Regions from separate parts of the Homo sapiens genome. Here all the other regions are linked to region 4. The links come from fine-mapping of genetic effects on gene expression. A gene starts in region 4. Each other region holds a variant in brackets. All regions are shown on one strand. Distances are from middle to middle.

Region 1 (2,745 bases), 28 kb after region 4:
GGAGGCCCTGCCCTCAGGGACCTCCGGGCTGGCCTGCCCTGTGCGCACTCCTCCTTGACTTAGGCTTACTAGGATCTGCCTCCCAAGCAAACAATGGTGGGACTCTCACATAGGCACAGTTGGGGCACTTAATAGCTCTGCTTTAGGTACCTTTCTTTGCTTTTCTCCCAGCAGCCTGGAAGTTTCTCAGGGGGCAGTGCCGAGATCGGGATCAGGTTCCCAAAGCCACTCCCGCACCTCCCACCCCCAGGGCTGAAAGCCAGCTGGCCACATAGAGGTTGCTCTGTAAATGCTATTTGGTTGAGTTCCTGCAGAGGCAGAGAGAGAAGCCCCCCAGCTGGCCTTATGGTTAGGCATCCCATCACCTCGGGTGAAGGGTCAGGTGGAGGAGGCCTGACCACTGGCAGGAGGCAGAGTTCAGAGCTTTGGGCAGGGTTTGAAGAGCCAGCTGTTCCCACCCCAGCCTCTGCAGGGGGCCAGGGGCAGGGTGGGAAACGACCCACAGATCTCAGCAACTGCTCCCTTGGAGACACGACTTCTGAAAGATGGAGAGAAGTCTAGGTCCCTACTGTCTGTGGAGGTTTCAGATACACTTGGAAATGAGAAAAACAGGCACGTTTACGTTTGATAAATTAACACATTTTTTTTTTGGAAGAGCGTTTTTCCCAGGCTGGTCTCAAACTCCTGGCCCCAAGTAATCTTCCTGTCTAGGCCTCCCAAAGTGCTGGGATTATAGGCGGGAGCCACTGCACCCAGCCAGATTAACACTTTTTCACACAAAATTACAATACAATTATGCTATCCACAAGATTTATTTTTGTTTTTATTTTTTTTGAGACGGAGTTTTGCTTTTGTTGCCCAGGCTGGAGTGCAATGGCACTATCTCGGCTCACCGCAACCTTCATCTGCCTCCTGGGTTCAAGTGATTCTCCTGCCTAAGTCTCCCAAGTAGCTGGGATTATAGGCATGCGCCACCACGCCTGGCTAATTTTGTTGCATTTTTAGTAGAGATGGAGTTTCACCATGTTGGCCAGGCTGGTCTCGAACTCCTGACCTCAGGTGATCAGCCCATCTCGGCCTCCCAAAGTGCTGGGATTACAGGTGTGAGCCACTGCACCTGGCTATCCACAAGATCATTACAGAATTTATAGAAAATTTTCCTTTACAGGGTACTGCAGGTCCTATTTTATAAAGTCTTGTGACAGGAACTTAAACAAATTTACAAGAAAAAAACAAACAACCCTATTAAAAAATGGGCAAAGGGGCTGGGCTTGGTGTCTCACGCCTGCAATCCCAGCACTTGGGGAGGCTGAGGCAGGCGGATCACGAGGTCAGGAGTTCGAGACCAGCCTGACCAACATGGTGAAACCCTATCTCTACTGAAAATACAAAAATTAGCCAGGCGTGGTGGTGCGTGCCTGTAATCCCAGCTACTCAGGAGGCCGAGGCAGGAGAATCGCTTGAACTCGGGAGGTGGAGGTTGCAGTGAGTCGAGATTGAGCCAC[C/A]GCACTCCAGCCTGGATGACAGAGCCAGACTCTGTCTCAAAAAAAAAAAAAAAAGCCTCCAAAAGTGGGCAAAAGACATGAACAGACACTTCTCAAAAGAAGACATACATGTGACCAAAAAACATATGAAAAAAAGCTTAACATCACTGATCATTAGAAAAATGCAAATCAAAACCACAATGACACCATCTCTTGCCACTCAGAATGGCTATTAAAAAGTCAAAAAACGTCCGGGCATAGTGGGTCACGCCTGTAATCCCAGCACTTTGGGAGGCCAAGGCGGGTGGATGTCTTGAGGTCAGGAGTTCCAGATTAGCTTGACCAACATGGTGAAACCCTGTCTCTACTAAAAATAAAAAATTAGCCAGGCATGGTGGTGTGCGCCTGTAATCCCAGCTACTCGGGAGGCTGAGGCAGGAGAATCGCTTGAACTCAGGAGGCAGAGGTTGCAGTGAGCTGAGGTCGTGCCACTGCACTCCAGCCTGGGTGACAGAGCGAGACTCTGTCTAAAAAAAAAAAAAAAAAAAAAAAAAAAAAGTCAAAAAACAACAGATGCAGGCAAGGTTGCGGAGAAAAAGGAACGTTTTTACTCTGTTGGTGGGAGTGAAAATTGGTTCAACCATTGTGGAAGACAGTGTGGTTATTCTTCAAAGACCCAGAGGCAGAAATACTATTTGACTCAGCAATCCCATTACTGGGTATATATACCCAAACGAATAGAAGTCATTCTGTTATAAAGATACATGCACGTGTATATTCATTGCAGCACTATTCACAATAACAATGACATGGAATCAACCTACATGCCCATCAATGATAGACTGGATAAAGAAAATATACACCATGGAGGTACATATACACCATGGAATACTATGTTTATATACGCCATGGAATACTATATACACCATGGTACATATACACCATGGAATACTATGCAGCCATAAAAAGGAATGAGATCATGTCCTTTGCAGGGACATGGATGGAGTTGGAAGTCATTATCCTCAGCAAACTAACACAGGGACAGAAAACCAAACACCACATGCTCTCACTTATAAGTGGGAGCTGAACGATGAGAACACACGGACACATGGTGGGAACCACACCACTGGGGTCTTTCAGAGGGATAGGGGTAGGGGAGGGAGAGCATCAGGAAGAATAGCTGATGGATACTGGGCTTAGTACCTGGGTGATGGGATGATCTGTGTAGCAAACCACCACGGCACACATTTACTTATGTAAC
Region 2 (2,745 bases), 32 kb after region 4:
TTTCAGTGACAGTGTTTTGGGATGAGATTAGTATTTAAGGCTGAGTGAGGTGGCTCATGCCTATAATCCCAGCACTTTGGGAGGTGTGGGCGGGTGGATCACCAGAATTCGGGAGTTTGAGACCAGCCTGGCCAACATGGTGAAACCCTGTCTCTACTAAAAATACAAAAATTAGCCAGGCATGGGCCGGGCGTGGTGGCTCATGCCCGTAATCCCAGCACTTTGAGAGGCCGAGGCGGGAGTATCACGAGGTCAGGAGATCGAGACCATCCTGGCTAACATGGTGAAACCCCGTCTCTACTAAAAATACAAAAAATTAGCTGGGCATGGTGGTACGTGCCTGTAGTTCCAGCTACTCGGGAGGCTGAGGCAGGAGAATGGCATGAACCTGGGAGGCGGAGCTTGCAATGAGCCAAGACCGCACCACTGCACTCCAGCCTGGGTGACAGAGCAAGACTCCGTCTCAAAAAAAAAAAAAAAAAAATTAGCCAGGCATGGTGTCGCAGGCCTGTAATCCTAGCCACTTGGGAGGCTGAGGCAGGAGAATCACTTGAACTGGGGAGGCGGAGGTTGCAGCGAGCTGAGATTGTGTCACTGCACTCCAGCCTGGGCATCAGAGCAAGACTCTGTCTCAAAAAAAAAAAAAAGAGAGAGAGAGAGTGAAAGATTAGTATTTAAATATTTAAATTGGTAGGGTTTAGGTAAAGCAGATTGCCCTCCATCCATGATGTGATTGGGTCTCATCCAGTCAGTTGAAGGTTCAAACAGAACAAACGACTGACCTTCCCTGAGCAAGAGGGAGTTTAGAAGCACGTAGCATTGAGACTTGAACTGAACCTTGACTCTTCTCTGGGTCTTCAGTCTGCCCACAACCCTGCAGATCTTGGATTTACCAGCCTCCATAATGGTGTGAAACAATTCCTTTTTTTTTTTTGGCAGAGATGGGGTCTCACTCTCACTTAGGTTTGAATGCAGTGGCACTGTTATAGGTCATGCAGCCTCACACTTCTGAGCTCAAGTGATCTTCTCATCTCAGCCTCCCGACTAGCTGAGACTACAGGCAAGCACCACCAGGCCCAGCTAATTTTTTATTTTTTATTTTTTTGTAGAGACGGAGTCTTGCTATGTTACCCAGGCTGGTCTCAAACTCCTGGGCTCAAGTGATCCTCCCACCTCGGCCTCCCAAAGTGCTGAGATTACAGGAGTGAGCCACTGTGCCTCTCCCTCTCTTTCTCTTGCCATATACATACACATGGAAAGAGAGAGAGTTCCTGAGGGGCAGCACCAGGATCACACACACACACACACACACACACACACACAC[C/ACC]CTATTGGTTCTGATCATCTGGAGAACCCTTGACTAATACACCCTGTTTCAGTAAAATGAAATGGGGTTAAATGAAAGAAAGGCTAATCTGCTCAAGATTATACACAACCGATAAATGAAGGCGGAATTGGAGTTCACATTCAGATCCATCTGTGCCCACCATGTTGCTTAACCAGCATGACTACAGTGCATGGTTACAACACACCATCTGGCTCCTGCCACCTCTCTGATGTCGCCTCCTTGCTCTCTTCCCCACACTCACTCCATCCTGCCCCCAGACCCTGCATGTCCCCTGTGCCAGGCACGTTTCCACCTCGCGGCCTTTGCACTTGCTGTTCCTGTGCCTGAAACGCTTTCTCAGCAGATATCTACACTTCTCTCTTCTGTATGTCATTCAGGTCTCTGTGCAAATGTCTCCTTCTCAGACAGGCCTTTCTGATCGTGCTATATGACACAGTACAGCCTGTCACCTTCTAGCCCCTTACCTTGCTATACTTTTCTTCATAGTACTTTTCACTACTTGGTGAATATATGTTATTTTTATTTTTAGTAGAGATGAGGTCTATGTTGCCCAGGCTGACCTTGAACTCCGGCCTCAAGTGATCCTCCTGCCTTGGGCTCCCAAAGTGCTGGGATTACAGGTATGAGCCACTGGGCAGGTTTAGTTGGTATATTAAATGTTTATTTTTGTCTTGTCTGTCTCCCATCACTAGAGTATAAGGTTCATTGAAGGCAGAGAATTTGTCTATTTTGTCCACTAGAATGCTGTTTGGCATAGAGTAGGTGTTCAACAAATGTTTATTAAAAGAAGAACCAAGGGCCAGGTGCCGTGGCTCACGTCTGTAATCCCAGCACTTTGGGAGGCTGAGGCGGGCAGATCAGCTGAGGTTGGGAGATCAAGACCAGACTGACCAACACGGAGAAACCCCATCTCTACTAAAAATACAAAATTAGCTGGGTGTGTTGGCACTTGCCTATAATCCCAGCTACTCGGGGGGCTGAGGCAGGAGAATCACTTGAACCTGGGAGGTGGAGTTTGTGGTGAGCCGAGATCGCGCCATTGTACTACAGCCTGGGCAACAAGAGCAAAACTCTGTCTCAAAAAAAAAAAAAAAAGAAGAAGAACCAAGAACCCCATTGGCAACACACCACTCTTGTACTTTGAGCCCTTTGTTGAAACTCAACTTCTACCCTGCATCAACTCCAAATTGCTGAATCCTCAGAATGATCCAGATGTTTTTCTCAGCTGCTCAGACCTGTTCCTGAGTCTGTCCACCTTCAGGCTATCATATTTTCCCATCTTCGTCTCTTGTAGCTTACCTTCTCTAGGAAACCCTGACTCACCCAGCCCCTTCTCCACTACTCCCCTTTTAAAAGTTTGTCTGTGTTTTTGTTAATTGCATGTGCTTTTGTCCTGTTGC
Region 3 (2,745 bases), 97 kb after region 4:
CCTCCCAGGTTCACGCCATTTTCCTGCCTCAGCCTCCCGAGTAGCTGGGACTACAGGCGCCTGCCACCGCGCCTGGCTAATTTTTTGTATTTTTAATAGAGACAGGGTTTCACTGTGTTAGCCAGGATGGTCTCGATCTCCTGACCTCGTGATCCGCCCGCCTCGGCCTCCCAAAGCACTGGAATTACAGGCGTGAGCCACCGCGCCCGGCCAATTTTTGTATTTTTAGTAGAGAGAGGGTTTCACCATGTTGGCCAGGCTGGTCTCAAACTCCTGACCTCAAGTGATCCACCCACCTCAGCCTCCCAAAGTGCTGGGATTACAGGCATGAGCCACCGCACCCGGCCCCACCTGCTTTAAACAACTAAAACACCTGACAGACTATATGAAACAGTGATTCCAGACATAGGACAACAGGCAGAATGGGGAGGGCTGTTCTTGGGTGTTCCACCTTAGACCCAGGAAGAGTAGTCGCTTCTTGTATCTGCTATTCCTGATTTTTTTTTTTTTTTTTGAGACAGAGTCTCGCTCTGTCACCCAGGCTGGAGTGCAATGGCAGGATCTCGGCTCAATGCAACCTCTGCCCTCCCCAGTTCAAGCAATTCTCCTGTCTCAGCCTCCTGAGTAGCTGGGATTACAGGCACCCGCCATCATGCCCAGCTAATTTTTGTATTTTTGTAGAGACAGGGTTTCACCATGTTGCCCAGGCTGGTCTTGAACTCCTGACCTCAGGTGATCCACCTGCCTCAGCCTCCTAAAGTGCTGGGATTACAGGCATGAGCCACTGCATCTGGCCCCCTATTCCTGTATTCATTTAGAGTTCTGTTTATTTCTTACTAGCCAATCCCTTCTAACCTCAATTCCTTGTTAAGTTAATACCTTTTTACATTAGACTGCATGTGGTGGGTCACACCTGTGATTCCAGCACTTTGGGAAGCTGAGGTGGGAGGATTGCTTAAGTCCAGGAGTTCCAGACCAGCCTAGGCAACATAGGGTGACCCTCTGTCTCTACAAAAGAAATGTAAAAATTAGCCAGGTGTGGTAGCACACGCTTGTGATCCCAGCTACTCAGGAAGCTAAGGCTGGAGAACCACTTCAGCCCAGGAGGTGGAAGCTATGGTGAGCCATGATTGCACCACTGCATACCGGCATGGGTAACAAAGCAAGACCTTGTCTCAAAAAAAAATTTTTTTTCTTTTTACATTAAACTTTCCCTGTTCAAATTGCTGTGTGGTTTCTGCCTCTTGACTAGATACTGACTGATACATGGGACATCAAGTAGAGTCATCAGATGATACTGCCTCAGTGGTGAGAGCAAATTAGCCTTAGACCAAAGGCTATTCTCCTCTTGCCAAATGGTACCTAAAAGCACACCTTAAAAGGATCAATCTGTTTCCAAGGAACTTAACTAAGTCCCTGAACG[A/G]GGCTCAAATATATTCAAAGGAATACAAAAAAATCTAGCACCAAACAACATAAAATATACAATGTCTGGCATCCAATCAATAATTACCAGGCATGCAAAGACACAGGCAAATAATGACACAAAGCTGACCCAGAAATGTCACAGAATTAGTAGACAAGGACTTTAGCTCCAATAGCTATTATTAAATACCATCCATATATTCAAACAGATATGGAAAAACATAAACACGATGTAAAGAGGTGTGAAGATATAAAATAAGACCTCAATTGAACTTCTAAAGATGAAATGTATAATATCTGAGATGAAAAGTATACTGGATGGAAATAAAAGCAGATTAGACCCTGTAGAAAACAGGTTTTTGAAGACTTAGCAATAGAAACTATCCAAGATGAAACACAGAGAGGAAAAAAAGACTTAAAAACAAAAAACAAAAAACAAAAACAAAACCTCCAAAACCAAAATCCAGAAAATCAGTGAGCTGTGGAATAACAAGTAGCCTGTATACCTGTTTGGAGACCAGAAACGTGGGTCTAACAGATTCACAGGAGAGATGACAGAAAAAATATCTGAAGGAACAATAATTTTCAAATTTGATGGAAACTATAAATCCCTATGTCGAAGAAGCTCAATAAACCCTAAGCAGAAGAAATATGAAGACAACTACACCAAGGGTACATCATAATCTGCCTTAATCACTGCTGAACACCAGTGATAAAGACACAAATCTTAAGAGCTGCCAGAGGAAAAAAACACATTGTGTAAAAAGGAAAAATAGAAGTGATTTCTCGTCAGAAACAATGCAACCCTGAAGACAGTGGAGTAATGTCTTTAAAGTACGAAAAGATAAAAACTGTCAACCTAGAATTCAGTGGAGATATCTTTCAAATAGGAAGATGGAATAAAGATGCATTCAGACATTCCAAAATTGAAAGAATTCATCATCAGTAGACCTGCACTAGAAGAACGGCTTTAAAAAGTCCTTCAAGCAGAAGAAAAATGATACCAGATGGAAATCTCCGTCTACACAAAGGAATGAAGAGAGCTGGAAATGGTAAATATGTGGGTAGATAGAAAAGATATTTTTCTGATTTTAAAATTCTCTTTAAAAGATACTTGAGGGTTTAGAGCAAATCTAATAATGTATTGTGGGGCTTATAGCATGTGTAGAAATAAATCCATGGTGACAATAGCACAAAGGCGGAGAGGTGGGGAATGGGAGGAAGGTGTTTGCGCTGAGTGGTGTGATATTACTTGATGGAGATAGACTATAAGTTAAAGAAGCATTGTGTAATCCTAAAAGAACCACAAAAAAATGTAAGTGT
Region 4 (2,500 bases):
CGCCCGCCACCACGCTCGGCTAATTTTTGTAGTTTTTAGTAGAGACGAGGTTTCACCATCTTGGCCAGGCTGGTCTTGAACCCCTGACCTTGTGATCCACTCGCCTCGGCCTTCCAAAGTGTTGGGATTACGGGCGTGAGCCACCGTGCCACGCCCGATCTGCCTCTTAAGTACATAACGGCCCACACAGAACGTGTCCAACTCCCCCGCCCACGTTCCAACGTCCTCTCCCACATACCTCGGTGCCCCTTCCACATACCTCAGGACCCCACCCGCTTAGCTCCATTTCCTCCAGACGCCACCACCACGCGTCCCGGAGTGCCCCCTCCTAAAGCTCCCAGCCGTCCACCATGCTGTGCGTTCCTCCCTCCCTGGCCACGGCAGTGACCCTTCTCTCCCGGGCCCTGCTTCCCTCTCGCGGGCTCTCGCTGCCTCACTTAGGCAGCGCTGCCCTTACTCCTCTCCGCCCGGTCCGAGCGGCCCCTCAGCTTGCGCGGCCCAGCCCCGCAAGGCTCCCGGTGACCACTAGAGGGCGGGAGGAGCTCCTGGCCAGTGGTGGAGAGTGGCAAGGAAGGACCCTAGGGTTCATCGGAGCCCAGGTTTACTCCCTTAAGTGGAAATTTCTTCCCCCACTCCCTCCTTGGCTTTCTCCAAGGAGGGAACCCAGGCTGCTGGAAAGTCCGGCTGGGGCGGGGACTGTGGGTTTCAGGGTAGAACTGCGTGTGGAACGGGACAGGGAGCGGTTAGAAGGGTGGGGCTATTCCGGGAAGTGGTGGGGGGAGGGAGCCCAAAACTAGCACCTAGTCCACTCATTATCCAGCCCTCTTATTTCTCGGCCCCGCTCTGCTTCAGTGGACCCGGGGAGGGCGGGGAAGTGGAGTGGGAGACCTAGGGGTGGGCTTCCCGACCTTGCTGTACAGGACCTCGACCTAGCTGGCTTTGTTCCCCATCCCCACGTTAGTTGTTGCCCTGAGGCTAAAACTAGAGCCCAGGGGCCCCAAGTTCCAGACTGCCCCTCCCCCCTCCCCCGGAGCCAGGGAGTGGTTGGTGAAAGGGGGAGGCCAGCTGGAGAACAAACGGGTAGTCAGGGGGTTGAGCGATTAGAGCCCTTGTACCCTACCCAGGAATGGTTGGGGAGGAGGAGGAAGAGGTAGGAGGTAGGGGAGGGGGCGGGGTTTTGTCACCTGTCACCTGCTCCGGCTGTGCCTAGGGCGGGCGGGCGGGGAGTGGGGGGACCGGTATAAAGCGGTAGGCGCCTGTGCCCGCTCCACCTCTCAAGCAGCCAGCGCCTGCCTGAATCTGTTCTGCCCCCTCCCCACCCATTTCACCACCACCATGACACCGGGCACCCAGTCTCCTTTCTTCCTGCTGCTGCTCCTCACAGTGCTTACAGGTGAGGGGCACGAGGTGGGGAGTGGGCTGCCCTGCTTAGGTGGTCTTCGTGGTCTTTCTGTGGGTTTTGCTCCCTGGCAGATGGCACCATGAAGTTAAGGTAAGAATTGCAGACAGAGGCTGCCCTGTCTGTGCCAGAAGGAGGGAGAGGCTAAGGACAGGCTGAGAAGAGTTGCCCCCAACCCTGAGAGTGGGTACCAGGGGCAAGCAAATGTCCTGTAGAGAAGTCTAGGGGGAAGAGAGTAGGGAGAGGGAAGGCTTAAGAGGGGAAGAAATGCAGGGGCCATGAGCCAAGGCCTATGGGCAGAGAGAAGGAGGCTGCTGCAGGGAAGGAGGCGGCCAACCCAGGGGTTACTGAGGCTGCCCACTCCCCAGTCCTCCTGGTATTATTTCTCTGGTGGCCAGAGCTTATATTTTCTTCTTGCTCTTATTTTTCCTTCATAAAGACCCAACCCTATGACTTTAACTTCTTACAGCTACCACAGCCCCTAAACCCGCAACAGTTGTTACGGGTTCTGGTCATGCAAGCTCTACCCCAGGTGGAGAAAAGGAGACTTCGGCTACCCAGAGAAGTTCAGTGCCCAGCTCTACTGAGAAGAATGCTGTGAGTATGACCAGCAGCGTACTCTCCAGCCACAGCCCCGGTTCAGGCTCCTCCACCACTCAGGGACAGGATGTCACTCTGGCCCCGGCCACGGAACCAGCTTCAGGTTCAGCTGCCACCTGGGGACAGGATGTCACCTCGGTCCCAGTCACCAGGCCAGCCCTGGGCTCCACCACCCCGCCAGCCCACGATGTCACCTCAGCCCCGGACAACAAGCCAGCCCCGGGCTCCACCGCCCCCCCAGCCCACGGTGTCACCTCGGCCCCGGACACCAGGCCGGCCCCGGGCTCCACCGCCCCCCAAGCCCACGGTGTCACCTCGGCCCCGGACACCAGGCCGGCCCCGGGCTCCACCGCCCCCCCAGCCCACGGTGTCACCTCGGCCCCGGACACCAGGCCCGCCCCGGGCTCCACCGCCCCCCCAGCCCACGGTGTCACCTCGGCCCCGGACACCAGGTCCGCCCCGGGCTCCACCGCGCCCGCAGCCCACGGTGTCACCTCGGCC

Evidence for each region.
Region 1: its variant is fine-mapped to the expression of MUC1 in whole blood (TOPMed, PIP above 0.99). The same link has a PIP of 0.9 or more in subcutaneous fat.
Region 2: its variant is fine-mapped to the expression of MUC1 in transverse colon (CEDAR, PIP 0.95).
Region 3: its variant is fine-mapped to the expression of MUC1 in whole blood (TOPMed, PIP 0.94).

Annotation. Positions count from the first base shown.
Region 1 is chr1:155,163,680-155,166,424 of GRCh38, reverse strand. No RefSeq gene overlaps it. Among named protein-coding and RNA genes, the nearest start is that of KRTCAP2, 8.3 kb to the left of the region's middle. The variant C/A (reference allele first, on the strand shown) is at 1,506.
Region 2 is chr1:155,159,170-155,161,914 of GRCh38, reverse strand. No RefSeq gene overlaps it. Among named protein-coding and RNA genes, the nearest start is that of KRTCAP2, 13 kb to the left of the region's middle. The variant C/ACC (reference allele first, on the strand shown) is at 1,325.
Region 3 is chr1:155,094,753-155,097,497 of GRCh38, reverse strand. No RefSeq gene overlaps it. Among named protein-coding and RNA genes, the nearest start is that of EFNA3, 17 kb to the right of the region's middle. The variant A/G (reference allele first, on the strand shown) is at 1,424.
Region 4 is chr1:155,191,679-155,194,178 of GRCh38, reverse strand. It overlaps MUC1 (mucin 1, cell surface associated), which reads left to right and starts at 1,270. Exons shown (of 12, transcript NM_001371720.2): 1 at 1,270-1,393; 2 at 1,869-2,500. The coding sequence starts at 1,336.